Homo sapiens: one gene and its partner. The protein of the gene in region 2 purifies or fractionates together with the protein of the main gene of each other region. This does not show direct contact. Each region holds a gene or a part of one and is shown on either strand. Other genes may lie near its edges.

What was found. The genes of interacting proteins can lie anywhere in the genome.
Region 1: the proteins of LRRC55 (region 2) and MACO1 purify together in Homo sapiens (affinity purification with mass spectrometry; one large-scale study listed by BioGRID and IntAct). This does not show direct contact.

The regions. Positions count from the first base shown.
Region 1 is NC_000001.11:25,454,897-25,458,396, forward strand, and holds part of MACO1 (macoilin), read left to right. Parts: intron 1-1,756; coding exon 1,757-1,935; intron 1,936-3,494; coding exon 3,495-3,500. UniProt on the Homo sapiens protein: Plays a role in the regulation of neuronal activity.
Region 2 is NC_000011.10:57,180,491-57,184,752, reverse strand, and holds the start of LRRC55 (leucine-rich repeat-containing protein 55 precursor), read right to left. Parts: upstream 2,801-4,262; 5' UTR 2,731-2,800; coding exon 2,070-2,730; intron 1-2,069.

The DNA.
Region 1 (3,500 bases), on a different chromosome or scaffold from region 2:
AAGACCATGAGCCCCCCCTTTTCAGGCAGATGAGTGAATCCCAGCTCTGTCCTCTGACAGCTTGTGTTGCCTTGTCACTGCCTCTAAGCCATGGTTTTCTTACCTGCCTCACTGGGTCATGGGAAAAAGGAACTGAAGTGATACATGTATTCAACTTAATGCCAAGCACATAGGTGTCTGATGAATGTTAGCTATGTTTATTATAATCAGGTAATGATTCCAGAAGGTCTTGATGAAATATATGGCTAATTCATGAAACTTAAAATAATTTAGAATTTCCTTAGCCTATTTATAAAAGTAAGAGAATATTATTAATAATTTTTGAATGAATATTATTTCTCTTTATGTTAATGAATATTAAGATATTATTCATTTAATCTTAACCATGAAACATTTTTGAAAAATGAGCTTGGTTCTTATTTAGATCTATTGTGGAACTTACCACCTAATGTATGTTTCTCCTAAACACACCAATTTTTACTAATATTTATGGCAGAAACCAAAATAAACAGTAATCAACTAAAAAAATACTGTTTCCAGTATTTTTAGTCTTTTTACAAACAAGTAAATTAAATGAACTTGGTCAGTAAAACATGTCACCGTAAGTTTGTAGTGAGACCACATTTAGACTAATTATAAATTGATACATTTTCATGTTAGTGAAACTTATATGGGCTTGACAGTGTTTGCAGAGGCTTTGAAATGATGTTAGGCAGGCTGGTAAGTTCAATGAAAATATTTAACTTTCTATCCCAGAGATTAGAGTTCTAAGTACAGCTGGTTTAATTTGGTGATACAAACCAAATCTTGGCACTGATCATATCGGATACTTATTTAAATGATTCTTGAATTTATGTATGACAGAATTTATATATGACAGAGTGTTTGTGAACCAATCTTCAAGGAATAGCTGGTGACAGTACCCCTCAGGCAGCAAGAAGATTAAATTAGTCACCTGAATTTGACCCTGCCTTCTAGTATTGAAAATCAAATGATGTCCTTGTGATTTTTTTTTTTAACACTTATGTTTACTTTTGGCTACCTGTAAAGTCTCTACCCTTTTAGTTTTTAAAAGCATACAGGCCAGGCGTGGTGGCTCACACCTGTAATCCCAGCACTTTGGGAGGCCAAGGCGAGTGGATCACGAGGTCGAGAGATCGAGACCATCCTGGCCAACATGGTGAAACCCTGTCTCTACTAAAATTACAAAAATTAGCTGGGCATGGTGATGCAGGCCTGTAGTCCCAGCTACTCAGGAGGCTGAGGCAGGAGAATCACTTGAACCCGAGAGGCGGAGGTTGCAGTGAGCCGAGATCACACCACTGCACTCCAGCCTGGGCAACAGAGCGAGACTCCATTTCAAAAAAAAAAAAAAAAGGGTACAGGTATCTGCCTAAGTTCTAATGCATAAGGCAGTTTCTTCAATATTTCTTCAAAGGCATTATTAGCCACTGTATCTGACAGTCACTGTGGTGACTCCTTGAATTAATTTGAAGAATGCCAACGTCTAATGGGAAGTGTCGTCTTACGGTCTAGCAGTCCTGTTGTTCCTGGGGGTTTTGTTCTGTGTGCCAGTTGCTTCTGATTTCCACAGTAGACATTACATTTATTTGTGTGTCTAGTGAATGCTCTTCTCAACTACCATCATCAATTAGAATTTATTTTTAATTTTTAAGCCATAGGTATTCTCATGTGCTTGAGGCACATGTGGTTCATTTTAAACCTACAATTACTGGCTGGATTGTCTTCTTTCTAGTATTGGGTACCCTGTGGTAACTTTGGGGTTTGGCTTCAAAAGTTACGTAAGCTACAAAATGCGGTTAAGGAAGCAAAAAGAAGTACAAAAAGAGAACGAGTTTTACATGCAACTTCTTCAACAAGCTCTCCCTCCAGAGCAACAGATGCTACAGAAGCAAGAAAAAGAGGCCGAGGAAGGTAGGTCTTTACCCTAAAGCTGTTGGCTCAATAGGCTAGTCATTATTTTGTCTCTTGGTAGAATTTTCTTTTCTGGAAAAGTAGCTAGGATTTTGTTTTTTTCTGTCTAATGGTGTTCCTCCTCAGGGTCATTGTTTTATTTGGTCAATGAAATACAGATGGTGAATGAAGTTTTTTACATACTGTCTGAAGACTATGTGTTTAAATATGTTTATTTTATTATTTTAAAATATATTTATATCTTTTTTATATTTTAATTCTGATTTTTTTTTAAATTTAGTTTTTTGAGACAGGGAGGGTCTCACTCTGTTGCCTAAGCTGGAGTGCAGTGATAACAGTTAGGGACCACTGCAGCCTCAAACTCCTGGGAGCAAAGTAATCCTCCCTCCTCAGCCTCCTGAGCAGCTGCTACCATGGGCACGTGCCACCATGCCTGGCTAATTTTTTTTAATTATTTTTTTGTAGAGATGAGGTCTCACTGTGTTGTTCAGGCTAGTCTCAAACTCCTGATCTCAAGCAATCCTCCCACCTCCACCTTCTGAAGTGTAGGGATTACAGGCATGAGCCACTATGCCCAGCCTGTTTTACGTATTTTAAAATATATATTCTCAGCAACAAAATACTATGGAACTATGTGAACTGGTAATTGAAGCAAGCCAAGAACCAAAGTATAAGCACAATGGAGATGTAGACATGTAGAATTGAACTTCAGAAGCCAGATGTCTTCTGAATAGAGCCAAGATGGATAGGTCGTGTTCTAAATGCTTCATATAATGTAATGCAGATTTTAAATTGAACCATTTCTAATGGAATCTCTCTCATGGGCATTTGACCAATAGAAATAGATAATTGGCAGTAGCTAGTTTCCATTGGTTTGAAAGTTGAAAGTTTGAGGTCATGTTTTTATTTAATATATTTCAAAATTTTCTTTTTGTGTGATGTGGTGCAAAAATATCTCTTCAAGTAGACCTTAATAAATTGGAATGTGTAGACCCAATACACAAAATTCTTTCTGAGTGGTCTGGTAAATGATACAGACTTCCTTATTACCTCAACACTAGAGTCCAGAAAAAGGATAGATGTCCTGTATCCTAAAATTATTCCTCTTCTTTTGTTTCATTTAACCTCTTTCTTTTCAGTAAAGTTATTAACAGTTCGTTTACTCCAGGCACTTAAAAAAATATGACTTCTTAGGATCTGCCTTTGTCCTCTCACCTCAGTGATAGGCGAGTTTGATTTGACTAATACACAAAGTGTGACCTAATTATAAAACCCTGATCTTGTTTTCAAGACTAGACCTTTAGTGGCCATCATTTTCATAAATGATGATGATTTTCTAAATGTAGAGTTTCTCAAATGTATTTGGATTTTCTTCTATTTTTTCCTACATCTTCTAGTAAACTATGAGGATTTGCTTCTTGATTAGCGTATAATGAGTGTGCAAACTAATGTGAATTTCTTAAGTGTAGATAATAGTTTGTTGAATTAATCTGTGTTGTTAAACAACTAAATATTCCGGTGGGGGCTTTTTGTTTGTTGGTTTGTTTTTGGTATTGTAGCAGCCA
Region 2 (4,262 bases):
AGGCACCAGTCCTAAAGTCATGCTGTATCCCAGGGGCTTGCTTATTATGGCCCTCTTTGTTCAATTTTTCCAAAAACCATGGATAACAGTGGAGTTCCGCAAAGAAAAAGGGAGGAAGCAGCTGAAAAGGACCTAAAGGGAAGAGCATCACCTAGTTCTGCCTCCACTGGCAAGGTTTTGTCCCTAAGGAGAAGCACCCTGGTGCGTGTGGCCTGGTGTTAAGTGTGTTCTGTGGAGGAACAGGGAACCTGGCTTTCCAGCTGGGACTGCTTGCTTCCTCATCATGGGCCTGTGGACAGTCACTGTCCCCTTCTGGAGCTCAGGTTCCTCACCTGTACTGATGTATGTGTGAGCCTACACTGATGAAATCTTGGACCCCTCTCCTGCTCGCTGGGAGTCTGAGCTTCTTCAGAGCAGCAGGGACCTCAGAGATCACAGAAAAGGAGTCCCTGGGTGTAATGTAAGCTTAGTGCTTTGGGTGCCCTTTCTGTTATTAGTGCACAGGAGAGAGAGGGAAGGCGCGCCTGCCAAGTTTGAGCAAGTTGAGAGATTGCTCCAGGCATCCTCCCACTCCTGCCCTCCACCATCGCCCCATCCCAGTCCCCAGCTATTTTGATGCAAGAGAATTTCCTCCTACAGCTCTGTGGAAACACTGGAATCGTGACCCACAGCCCTCCCCAAACTATTTTGGTCTTGGGCTCCCCACTCAGTCCTCCTCTCCCTTTTACCACATTCAGCATTGCTTCTTCTCAACATGGGCTGAGCTCAGGTTCTGGGAAAGCCCCTTGGATAGGGCCTTCAGCTACTACTTCTGGGTTCTTGTGCCAAGTCTTGGTGTTGTCACACAGGAGAGCTGGTGGCTAGGGCCACAGCTGAACATTGCCTGCCTCTGGGTCAGGCTCAGATGCCACTGGGTTGGGATGCCCATCAAACCTATGTGATTTGGGCTTCTTCAGGCCCCAGTCCACCCTCCAGTTGGGATTGGCTGGTTGAGTTGCCGCATCTCAGTCTTCCTTTCAGCTCCCTACCCTGTGCCCAAAGTTTACACTGCTCAGGGCCTTGAGTTTGAGGAAAGCCAGGTTCTCGTAGCTGAGATCCAGGTCTTGGAGCTGCATGAGGTCCTGGAACTCTACTGCAGCCCTTTGGCCAGTCCAGGACTCAGGTTCTGACTCTTCCGGCAGGCCAGAACCTGACTCTTCAGGATATAGTCAGGGAGATTGCCAGGACTCAAATCCTGGCTTCAACACTTAGCAGCTGTGTAACTTCCAACAAGCTACTGAACCTCTCTGTGCCTCAGCTTCCTCCTCTGTAGAGTGGCAATCTCATTAGTGTTCTTCTGGGGATAGGAAGAGATAGGTAAAGCTGCTTAAGAGAGGGCCTGGTAAATAGCAAGTACTAAGGTCTCAAGTTCCTCCTGGAACATATTGGCTGTCACGCAACTTAAGCTATTGCAGCTCTGTTGAGATTGTGTTAGTCATTACTATTTATACGAGAGTTTCCAACACTTGGAATGCTAAAAAAGCATTCTGGTAGATTAGAACAGGGCTTAGAAGTCAGATAAATCTAGGTTTTATTCATGGTCCTGCCACTTTTTAATTTTTTAATTTGTATTTTTTTCATGGCCCTGCCACTTTCTAAGTGTGTGATTCCTGTCAAGCCTTTTTATTGTTCTAAATCTCAGTTTCTTCACCTGGAAAATGGGTATAATAAAAATGGGGGTCTCATGAGATAATGGATGCCAAGATCTTAGGTCATGGTGAAAGCTCAATAAAAACCACCAACCATAGGCTATTCTCACTTGTCTACTATCCGTCTGCCTCATTAGGTCATGAGCAGCGCAGTGGTGAGGGACATCTATTTAATGAATGAATGGGCCCTCGGTGCCTCACATGCACTGGAAGGATTCTACAAACAACCTGTTGGCCGAGCTGGTGTACAAAGAGGCAAGCCCACATTAGAAAATGCAGTAGGTGCTTTCTGGCTCTAAGTTCCCCCGCTTTCTTTGGAGCCTTTGCTTCCCATTGAGGCAAGCCCTCCCTGTTGACTGCCCCGTTCTGCCCCTCTATTACCTGCTGTACAGCGCTGGATCCGGTTTCGCAGCCACTTCAGCAGGGGTTCCATGGTGCAGCCACACACCCAGGGATTGCCACCGATCTGCAGGGTCACCAGCCCCGGTAGGCCCTCAAGAGCCTCCAGGCTGAGGAAGGCCAGGCCCCCATAACTGAGGTCCAGGTCTCGGAGCTGCATGAGGCCCTGAAAGGCCTGGGGATGCACCCTCCGCAGCCAGGGGTTGTGGCTCAGGTCGATGTGGACTAGCCCATGGGCCTCCTGGAACATGTCGGCTGGCACATGGCTGAAATTGTTGTAGCTCAGGTCCAAGTGTGCCAAGCGCTTGGCATGGAGGAAGAGGCCCCGGGGCAGCTCCATTAAGGAGTTGTTGTGCAAATCCAGCACCTGGAGCTCCATGTAGCATGTGAGGTAGCCAGGCGGCACTGCTGTGATGCGGTTGTGGGCCAGGCTGAGGTTTCGGGTGTCCATTGGCAGGTCTGGGGGCACGGAGAATAGCCGCTGGCTGCTACAATCCACCACCTGGTTACGGCATGTGCAAAGGACGGGGCAGCTGGTGCCGGCATCCGAGTGCATCAACCCGGCTGCCAAGAGGAGGGAGATCAGCAGCATTGCTGGGTGGGGTGGCCCGGGCCAGGGAAGCTGGGCCCAAGTGTCACCCATCTTAGGCAGCAGGCAACAGCAGTGCTGGAGGGAGCCCATGAGGACTGTGTCCATGGAATCGAGAGTCTGTGACACAGGAAGGCAGCTACATCTGGGGCCAGCGTCTGTGAAGGTGGGGCTTCTGAGCATGTGGTATCATGGCTAGGGACTTTCCCAGGAGCCTCTGAGCACCAGAGGGCTTCCTGAGATCCACGGGAGGTCCCCTTCCGGAGCCTAGGGGGCAAGACACCCAGTTGAGGTCCCCTAGGGTCTGGAATGATGATCAAAACCTGAGAAAGGGAGGGGACAAGAATGGGGCTAGGTCAGCTGCCAGCAAGTCCTGGAAGAGTTCCTGCAGATCTTTTGTGTCTCTCTCACCCATGCCTGCTGGATGTTTCCTCTTGGTGCTGTGTCTGGGAGGGAGGGGCTGAAGGAGATGAAACGTGCCCTTTAAAGATCCTTGGCACTTCTTCTGAGAAAACTTAAGTCCTGTCCCACGTCTGGGACTGATTAGGAAGCCGGGGCTGCACCTGGGTCTTCAGTGTTGAAGGTCTCAGAGGCCATTTGTCCTGGTGGCCTGGTGGGCTGGAGTCCAAGGGGGTCCCAGGGTGGGTGTTTTGGGAAAAGGGCCCGGGAGGAAGTGAGTCTCCATGGGCCTCCTAAAAGCCTGAGAGTCCTCAGCCTCAGTGGCTGCTGGAATCCCCAGGAAGCCTCTTTTTTTCCCAAAGAGAGGAGGACCCCAGGTGATGCCCACTGTCTGGGCCTCTGGGGCCAGAAGAAGTCATGAGTCCTGAAGGTGCAGGCTGAGTGTCAGCTGGCAGAGCTCTGGCATCTTCTCCAAGCCAGTGCCTTCCTCAGCGCAGTTCTGTGTTCAGCAGGTGGAGGCCAAATTCCCTCTGTCAACAAGGAAAGCACTCAGGCAGAGAAATCCTGTGCCCTTGACACTCCCTTGTCCCTTCACCTAGGACGCTTGGCTTATCTTTGTCTCTTTCCTTTGCTCCCCCAACCACAAAGTTCTCTGCTTACTGTCTGTCAGGTGTGGGCCATGGTAGGTTCAGACCCCAGGCTCACATTGCTGTTACCCACGAGCCCTCCCTGACCCAACCTGCAGCCATCCTCCTCTGGGTTCCTGTCTTGGGTTAGATGCATTTTCTTCTTCTTCTCATAACCCCACCCTCATTAGTACCAAACACGCCACCCTTGAACAACTCCCTAAGAAAAATCTGCATCCACACTCTGGGGGTTTGCACACCCCTTTCAAACACTCTAAGCACTCCTCTCTCTCTCACACGCACACACACACACTCACTCACACACCATTCTGTGACTCCCCCGTATTTTGCCCTGCCCCGTGCTCACGCCTCGCGGTTTTCGCTCCAGCTTCCTTCTGCACAGGCGATTCTGCAGACCCCTCCCCAGTCGACCCCCAGCATCTTTCGCCCCCCTCTCAGCGCACACCCTTCATCCCAGCATCCCTTTCCACACACTGCACTCTCCTCGCCGCCCCCAGCAGAGGGACCGAGAGTGATGCCACGCCCAGAGCCTCAGCCCTC